Linked DNA regions of Homo sapiens. The protein of the gene in region 1 purifies or fractionates together with the protein of each later gene. This does not show direct contact. Each region holds a gene or a part of one and is shown in the gene's direction. Other genes may lie near its edges.

Region 1 (3,846 bases):
TAAAGACATAATTTCCAAGTCTTCAGCTTTTGTATATATTCTTTCTAAATCTGATCTGCTTGAAATTGGCTTGTGTGTTCATGCAGATTCTGCTTTCCCACCTTTCCTTTTACATTGATATTTTTAACATTTGTGAAAAGAAATATTACAACTCACTCATCTTTCCATGGTATATTGCTTTCGGGGTGCCTTATAAAGAGGCAGTTGGAAATATTTGATTTAGGGGAGCCTTCTTTAAGGATAATGGTTAAGCAAAAACATAAGCCTGCCAAGGGTTTGCCTGTCCCTATTTTAAACACATTTCTGTTAAGGCTGAAGTGTGGAGATAGAATTAGTATATGGTAGTCTGTGTGGGAATGTTCTGAATTCAGGCATATTGTAGAATGTGGTGGTAGGAGTGATTGTAAGGTGATCTGGGTGGGTTGTTTGATGGGAAGCTTAGCACCTTCAAGTTTTTACTCTTGGACTGGTTAGATTCTCCAGAGAAAAGCCTTCCCATTCTCCTCCCTAGAGGGCAGTATTTTAGGAATTTAGTGGCGGAAGACTAGGGTTCTCTGCCTTTAGCATTCAGTCTGTATGGTTCCCATGCCCACAGTCTAGACTGTTTCATTAATACCTTCTCCAGAGAATAAACTTACAGTCTTTTTCCTGGGGCAGTTGCCTAATAGCATGAAGTGAGGTAGGACACTTAGAGATATTCCTTTGTCAGTTTATACACAGCCCTAACCCGTTTCACCTTTAATTCCAAAGGTATCAGCTACTGCTTCATATGAATTTTTTTTTTTTAGAATACTGCAGGGTAAATTGGTTTGGTTCTCATATGCTCCCACTACTGGCTTGGGATTTTAATTTTTATGTGTTGCAATTTGTTAGTCTTTTTGGTTTTGGAATTTTGAGGAGTCATATTTAGGAAAACCTCCATTTCCCCATCTCCCCTCAATAGTGTGAAAAGAATCACCTTTATTTCTTAGTTCTTTTATAGTTTTAATTTGTACATTTTAAACTATTAGTTATTGGGGAATAAATTTTTGTTAATGGTGTGGAGGTAGGAATTAAACTCCTTTTTTTCTTCTAGAGGAATAGCTAGTTGTCTCAATACCATTTATTGAATAATCCATTTTTACCCTGCCCTGATTTTAAATGCCACCCTTGTCATACACTAACTTCCTCCATTCTTATTTTGTTGTGGTAAGATACACATAATATAAAAATCACAATTACCTGTTCTTTCATGATCAATGTCTAAAAAATACTAATTTGAGAAAGGATGATCTTTATAACCTAATATGCCAAAAAGAGAGTGAAGGGAAAGATGGAAGATTATCCTGTCTACTTCCTGCAGACTGCTTTCCTGTTGTTCTTTTGGTTCCCTCTGAGCACTATTTTGCCCAATCATTGTGTACTTACTGGACTGAGTTGAGCTATAGCTGCTGGGAGAACATATTCCCTTTTGTGACAACCCCTTTAGTATTTCCATGAGAGATTATTTCCTCTTCTAAGCGGATGTTAGAACCAGAGGCATTATAACATATGACTGGGTCAGAAACTTGTTTAAAGGGTTCCAAACATGTCAGAGCCTAGTGTAGTCCTTATAGTTTGATGGTTTTATGGTAATAATATCAGGCAGCCACTTATAAAGTCCTTTATTAATTAATTTTAACAGCTAATTAATCTTAACAGCTAAAGTAATTTTATTTACTTTCCCGTATTATGTGATGTCTCTGGTTATTTGTCTTAACTTTTTTTTACAGCTTGGCCTTCGAATTTGGTAAATAGTTTTTAGTCACATAGTGATTAATCATTTTATTTAAGTTTAATGAACTTTTATTATAAGGGAATGATTATCTTGTTTTAAGAATAACCTGGCTGCTTACTCAGTCAATCAGCATCATTTATTTCATTGCCAACTTTGTAGAGAGACCTCTACTTTATTCATTAAGAATATATAGAATAGGCTGGGCACAGTGACTCATGCCTGTAATCCCAGCACTTTGGGAGGCCGAGGTGGGCGGATCACCTGAGGTCGGGAGTTCAAGACCAGCCTGACCAACATGGAGAAATGCTGTCTCTACTAAAAAATACAAAATTAGCCGGGTGTGTTGGCGCATGCCTGTAATCCCAGCTACTAGGGAGGCTGAGGCAGGAGAATCGCTTGAACCCAGGAGGCGGAGGTTGTGGTGAGCCAATATCGTGCCATTGCACTCCAGCTTGGACAGCAAGAGCGAAACTCTGTCTCAAAAAAAAAAAAAAAAAAAGAATAGGAAAAAAATGTTTCTGTCTTTGAGATATAGTTTAATAAAGGACTTTGTAAGGGGCTGCCTGATATTATTACCATAAAATAACACAGAATACTTAAGCACACAATTCTTAAAAAATGAAGCACACAGTTTTCCTACAGGTGTCACCCTGTAGGAGTTTATATTTTTTAAAAGATGGCCCATACTCTTAAGAGTTTTAAACCATTGGAAGGCTGTTAGCTACTCTTTTTTTTTCTTTTTTTTTTTTTTTTGAGACCGAGTCTCACTCTGTTGCCCAGGCTGGAGTGCAATTATGCAATCTCAGCTCTCTGCAACCTCCACCTCCTGGGTTCAAGTGATTCTTCTGCCTCAGCCTCCCCAGTAGCTGGGATTTCAGGTGCCCACGACCACACCTGGCTAATTTTTCTATTTTTAGTAGAGACTGAGTTTCACCATGTTGGCCAGGCTGGTCTCGAACTCCTGACTTCAGGTGATCCGCCCTCCTTGGCCTCCCAAAGTGCTGGGATTACAGGCATGAGCCATGGTGCCCAGCCAGCTACTCTTTTAATTGGCAGCTACATAGCAGAGGAAACTGATGTTTGGGCTTGTGAATAAACATCATTGTTTTTGTTTTTTTCCTATGAAATGTTAGTTTTGAATGACCCATTACTTGTAGCCAAATAAAGTGATAAGAATATTCAAGTGTTGCTGATTTTATTTTCTGTTTCTTCTAGATGTCATCATTGCCAAGAAGAGCGAAAGTACAGGTCCAGGATGTGGTACTGAAAGATGAATTTTCTTCATTCTCTGAGTTGTAAGCATACTGGTTTAATATGTGGGTAGGGGAATGATGAATATTTTAATAAGGAGTAATGCATTCTGTCACTTTCTAACTCCTTAAGTGATGTGGGTAGAAAAAACTTTTTTTATTCATTCATGCAACAAGTATTTGTTGAACTCATGCTGTGTTCCAGGTTCTGTCTAGTGTTGCTAATAAAGTATCGAAAGGAGAGAGAAAGTAACCAACTAAATATGTAACATAATACTTACACTAGAATATAAGCTCCATGAGAGCATAGAGTTTTATATATTGCTTTAGAGCAGGATTTTTCAACCTCTGCACTACTGACATTGTGTGCAAGACAATTCTTTGTTGTGGGGGCTATCTTTTTTCTTGTAGGATTTTTAGCAGCATCCTTGGCCTCTACCCACTGGATGCCAATAGCTTCCTGCTAAGTTATAACAATTAAAAATGTCTCTAGACATTGCTAGATATCCCCAGTTGAGAATCTCTGCTTTAGAGTCATATTAGGTGCTCTGAAGATATTTGTTAAGTAAATGACTGGTAATATTTATAGTAATAAGTACTATAAAGAAAAATAAAACAGGGCAGGGGATAGAGAGCATAGTGAGTGGTTGCAGTCGGGGGGCATTTTGGATAGAGTAGTCAGAAAGTTATTGCGGAAGATGTGGCAAGAGATCTAGATGAGATTTGGGGGTGCAGCTTGCAAAGATCTTGGGGATGGGTGTTCCAAATAGAGAAAGCAGCAAGTGCAAAGACCCTGAGGCAGGAATAAGTTTGGTGTGTTCAGGGAACAGCAAGAAGACC
Region 2 (3,500 bases), on another chromosome or scaffold:
TTGACCTGGGCCTGGAACGGTCTAGTGTAGGATCAGGCAACACTGCTGGTGGTGGCGGCAGCAGTGGGACTCTTACTCCAGCCAGCCAGCCCGGCACTCCTTCGCCACTGGATGGGCCGCGGCCCTTTCCTGCTGCTCCTGGCCGCCACAGCTCCAGTCTCTCCAATGTGCTGGAGGACGGCAGCCTCCCGGAGCCCACCATTAGCGGGGATGATACCTCGAACACCAGCAACCCACAGGTGAGGTGGGCCCACCCTCTGCCACTGCATGGTACCCAAGGGAGGACACTTCTGGTACACAGGGCTGGCAGTGTAGCCTCTCCAAAGGTGTGGCCCTGTCTGACCAGGGTTGCAGCCACTGGTCAGGCCTATTGCTGTCCCCTCATAGCTCTCATCTGCAGTTGTGTTCCCAGAGGGCTCCTGGAACAGGGTGAGTCATGATGAGCCACAGTGGGTGACACCAGCCAGGCTTCAGAAGGGCCCTCAAGAGAGCCTGTAGGGCAGACACCTCACAGGGTCCAAGGGCAGCAAACTCCAAAGGCCCTGCCCTGGGCTTCTGGGTTTGGGGATGGGCCTCTGCTTGTTCTATGTGAACTGCCTCATCTCCTCTTGGGAGTCTGGCAAGACCCCAGGATTCTGCCTGGAACTCAGGTAGTAGTTGAGACCCCTATACCATTCTTCCAGGCCCTTAGTGCCAGGCTCACTGTTAGCCAAATGCTCTGACTCCTGGGTGGCTACCCCAGGAGGGGTGCTGAGTGGGGATGGGTGGGCGTCAGCCTGATTCCCTCCCTTAGCCGCCCACAACCCACGCCCACACCACCCACCTGTGCCCACAGCAAACCTCTGAGGAAGAGTTGTGCAATCTGCTCACCAACGTGCTGTTCTCGGTGACGTGGCGTGGCGTGGAAGGCAGCGATGAGGCTGCCTGGCGGGAGCGTGGCCAGGTTTTCTCAGTGCTCACCCAGCTGGGGGCCTCAGCCACACTTGTGCGCCCACCAGACTGCATCAAGCGCAGGTGAGAGGGAAAGTCTGGAGGGGGAGGGGCTTCAGGAAGCCTCGGGGGAAGGAGAGAAGATAGTCAGGTAGACCCTTGAGTTCCCCACTCACCCGCCAGCCTCCTGGAGATGATGCTGGAGTCAGCCCTGACCGACATCAAAGAGGCCCCCGTGGGGGTCCTGGCCAGCCTCACCCAGCAAGCGCTTTGGCTGCTGCGTCTGCTGCAGGACTTCCTGTGTGCTGAAGGCCATGGTAACCAGGAACTGTGGAGTGAGAAGGTGCGACCCCTCAGAGAGGCGTGAGCCACATGAACACTCATGTTCATGCAAGCCTGCAGGGATCTGGTCTGGGAGGTGGATGGGTACACGTGCGCAGGTGTGGGTGCATCAGCATGAATGCCTGTGAGTGTGGACTTGCCTGTGTGCACAAACCCTACCTGGCCCCCAGCGCAAACTTTACTTTGCTCCCTTTCCATGGACTCCTGGCCTCCCCTGGTGATGTCTGTTGGGAACCTGTTTTCTGTGGCAGCTCTTTGAAGGTGTATGCAGCCTACTTGATCGCCTGGGAGCCTGGCCCCACCTGGCCAACGGCACAGCTGATCTCCGTGAGATGGCGCAGATTGGCCTACGGCTTGTACTTGGCTACATCCTGCTGGAAGACCCACAGGTGAGCACAGGGTGAGCATGGGGGCAGGGGGCGTGTGAGATGTCGGGAGCTCCAAGAGTGGCTGGGTGCCACTCATCTCTCTTGCGCCCACAGCTGCATGCCCAGGCCTACGTGAGATTGCACATGCTGCTACAGACTGCAGTGCCAGCCCGCCGCGAGGAGGCCTGCTATGTGCTCTCCAAGCTGGAGGCTGCACTGGGGCGGGTGCTGAACACCTCTTCCTTGGAGTCAGCCACTGATGAGGCAGGGTCCCCACTTGCAGCTGCAGCAGCTGCAGCAGCTGCAGAGCGCTGCTCCTGGCTGGTGCCACTGGTGCGCACGCTGCTAGACCGTGCCTATGAGCCGCTGGGGCTGCAGTGGGGACTGCCCTCCCTGCCACCCACCAATGGCAGCCCCACCTTCTTTGAAGACTTCCAGGCTTTTTGTGCCACACCCGAATGGCGCCACTTCATCGACAAACAGGTGCCTGGAGGTTGGGGCCCAGGAAGAGGAGTGGGGGCTGGGGCCCACATCGAGCACTGTTCTCCTCTGCCCAATCCTCCAGGTACAGCCAACCATGTCCCAGTTCGAAATGGACACGTATGCTAAGAGCCACGACCTTATGTCAGGTTTCTGGAATGCCTGCTATGACATGCTTATGAGCAGTGGGCAGCGGCGCCAGTGGGAGCGCGCCCAGAGTCGTCGGGCCTTCCAGGTGTGCCACCCGGGGTAAGGGATGGGAAACTGCTCCACACATGCACCCAGGAGATGACTGACAATGTGGAGAAACGGGTAGGGCAGGCAGCAGCCAGGGGACTGACCTATTACCCCCACCCCAGGAGCTGGTGCTGGAACCTGCGCAGAGGCGGGCGCGCCTGGAGGGGCTACGCTACACGGCAGTGCTGAAGCAGCAGGCAACGCAGCACTCCATGGCCCTGCTGCACTGGGGGGCGCTGTGGCGCCAGCTCGCCAGCCCATGTGGGGCCTGGGCGCTGAGGTGGGCCGGGCTTGGGGCAGGGTCGCTGTGGAGGGGTGGGGCTTGGGAGGGAGGGAGCCACCTGGAGCCCCAGACTGCCTTTGGGGTGAGGCCAGGGAGGGATGGGGGTGTCTACAGCCTTCTACCGACCCATGACCTGGGGGACATTCTGCAGGGACACTCCCATCCCCCGCTGGAAACTGTCCAGCGCCGAGACATATTCACGCATGCGTCTGAAGCTGGTGCCCAACCATCACTTCGACCCTCACCTGGAAGCCAGCGCTCTCCGAGACAATCTGGGTGAGGGAGTGTGCTGAGATGGGTCCACCCAACTCGATTGTCCCGTCTCCTGTCCTGCCTTGCTTCTGCTGAGTACCCTTGGCCCCTTGCAGGTGAGGTTCCCCTGACACCCACCGAGGAGGCCTCACTGCCTCTGGCAGTGACCAAAGAGGCCAAAGTGAGCACCCCACCCGAGTTGCTGCAGGAGGACCAGCTCGGCGAGGACGAGCTGGCTGAGCTGGAGACCCCGTGAGTGGGGCCCTGGAGAGATTGGACTGGTGTGGTGGGCAAGGGGTCTGCTCCAGTGTGTGCATGCCTCTGTGGGATCAACTCCCTGAGTGTGTCCTCTTCTGCTGCCCGACTACGTCCCCCTGAAGGGACTGTCCAAAGCCAGATGGTGAGTGGGAGAGTCTCCTAACAGGGCTGAGAGTTGCTCTTTTAACAGCCAGGCACCTGAGGACAGCACTGAGAAACACAAACCAGAGCAGGAAGGGGGCCCAGGGAGTGGGCAGGGGCTGGGTGAGGGGAGCAGGGGACAAGGGTTGGCATCCTGGCAAAATATTCAGAAGCCCAGTGGGTGGCAGGTGGGGGACAGGGGCTGGGAC

The links.
Region 2: the proteins of SRBD1 (region 1) and NBEAL2 purify together in Homo sapiens (tandem affinity purification; one large-scale study listed by IntAct). This does not show direct contact.

Annotation. Positions count from the first base shown.
Region 1 is NC_000002.12:45,604,567-45,608,412, reverse strand, and holds part of SRBD1 (S1 RNA-binding domain-containing protein 1), read left to right. Parts: intron 1-2,971; coding exon 2,972-3,051; intron 3,052-3,846.
Region 2 is NC_000003.12:47,000,166-47,003,665, forward strand, and holds part of NBEAL2 (neurobeachin-like protein 2), read left to right. Parts: coding exon 1-239; intron 240-835; coding exon 836-1,014; intron 1,015-1,113; coding exon 1,114-1,273; intron 1,274-1,523; coding exon 1,524-1,661; intron 1,662-1,754; coding exon 1,755-2,123; intron 2,124-2,205; coding exon 2,206-2,355; coding exon of another isoform or gene 2,356-2,369; intron 2,370-2,479; coding exon 2,480-2,637; intron 2,638-2,791; coding exon 2,792-2,916; intron 2,917-3,008; coding exon 3,009-3,144; intron 3,145-3,500. UniProt on the Homo sapiens protein: Probably involved in thrombopoiesis. Plays a role in the development or secretion of alpha-granules, that contain several growth factors important for platelet biogenesis.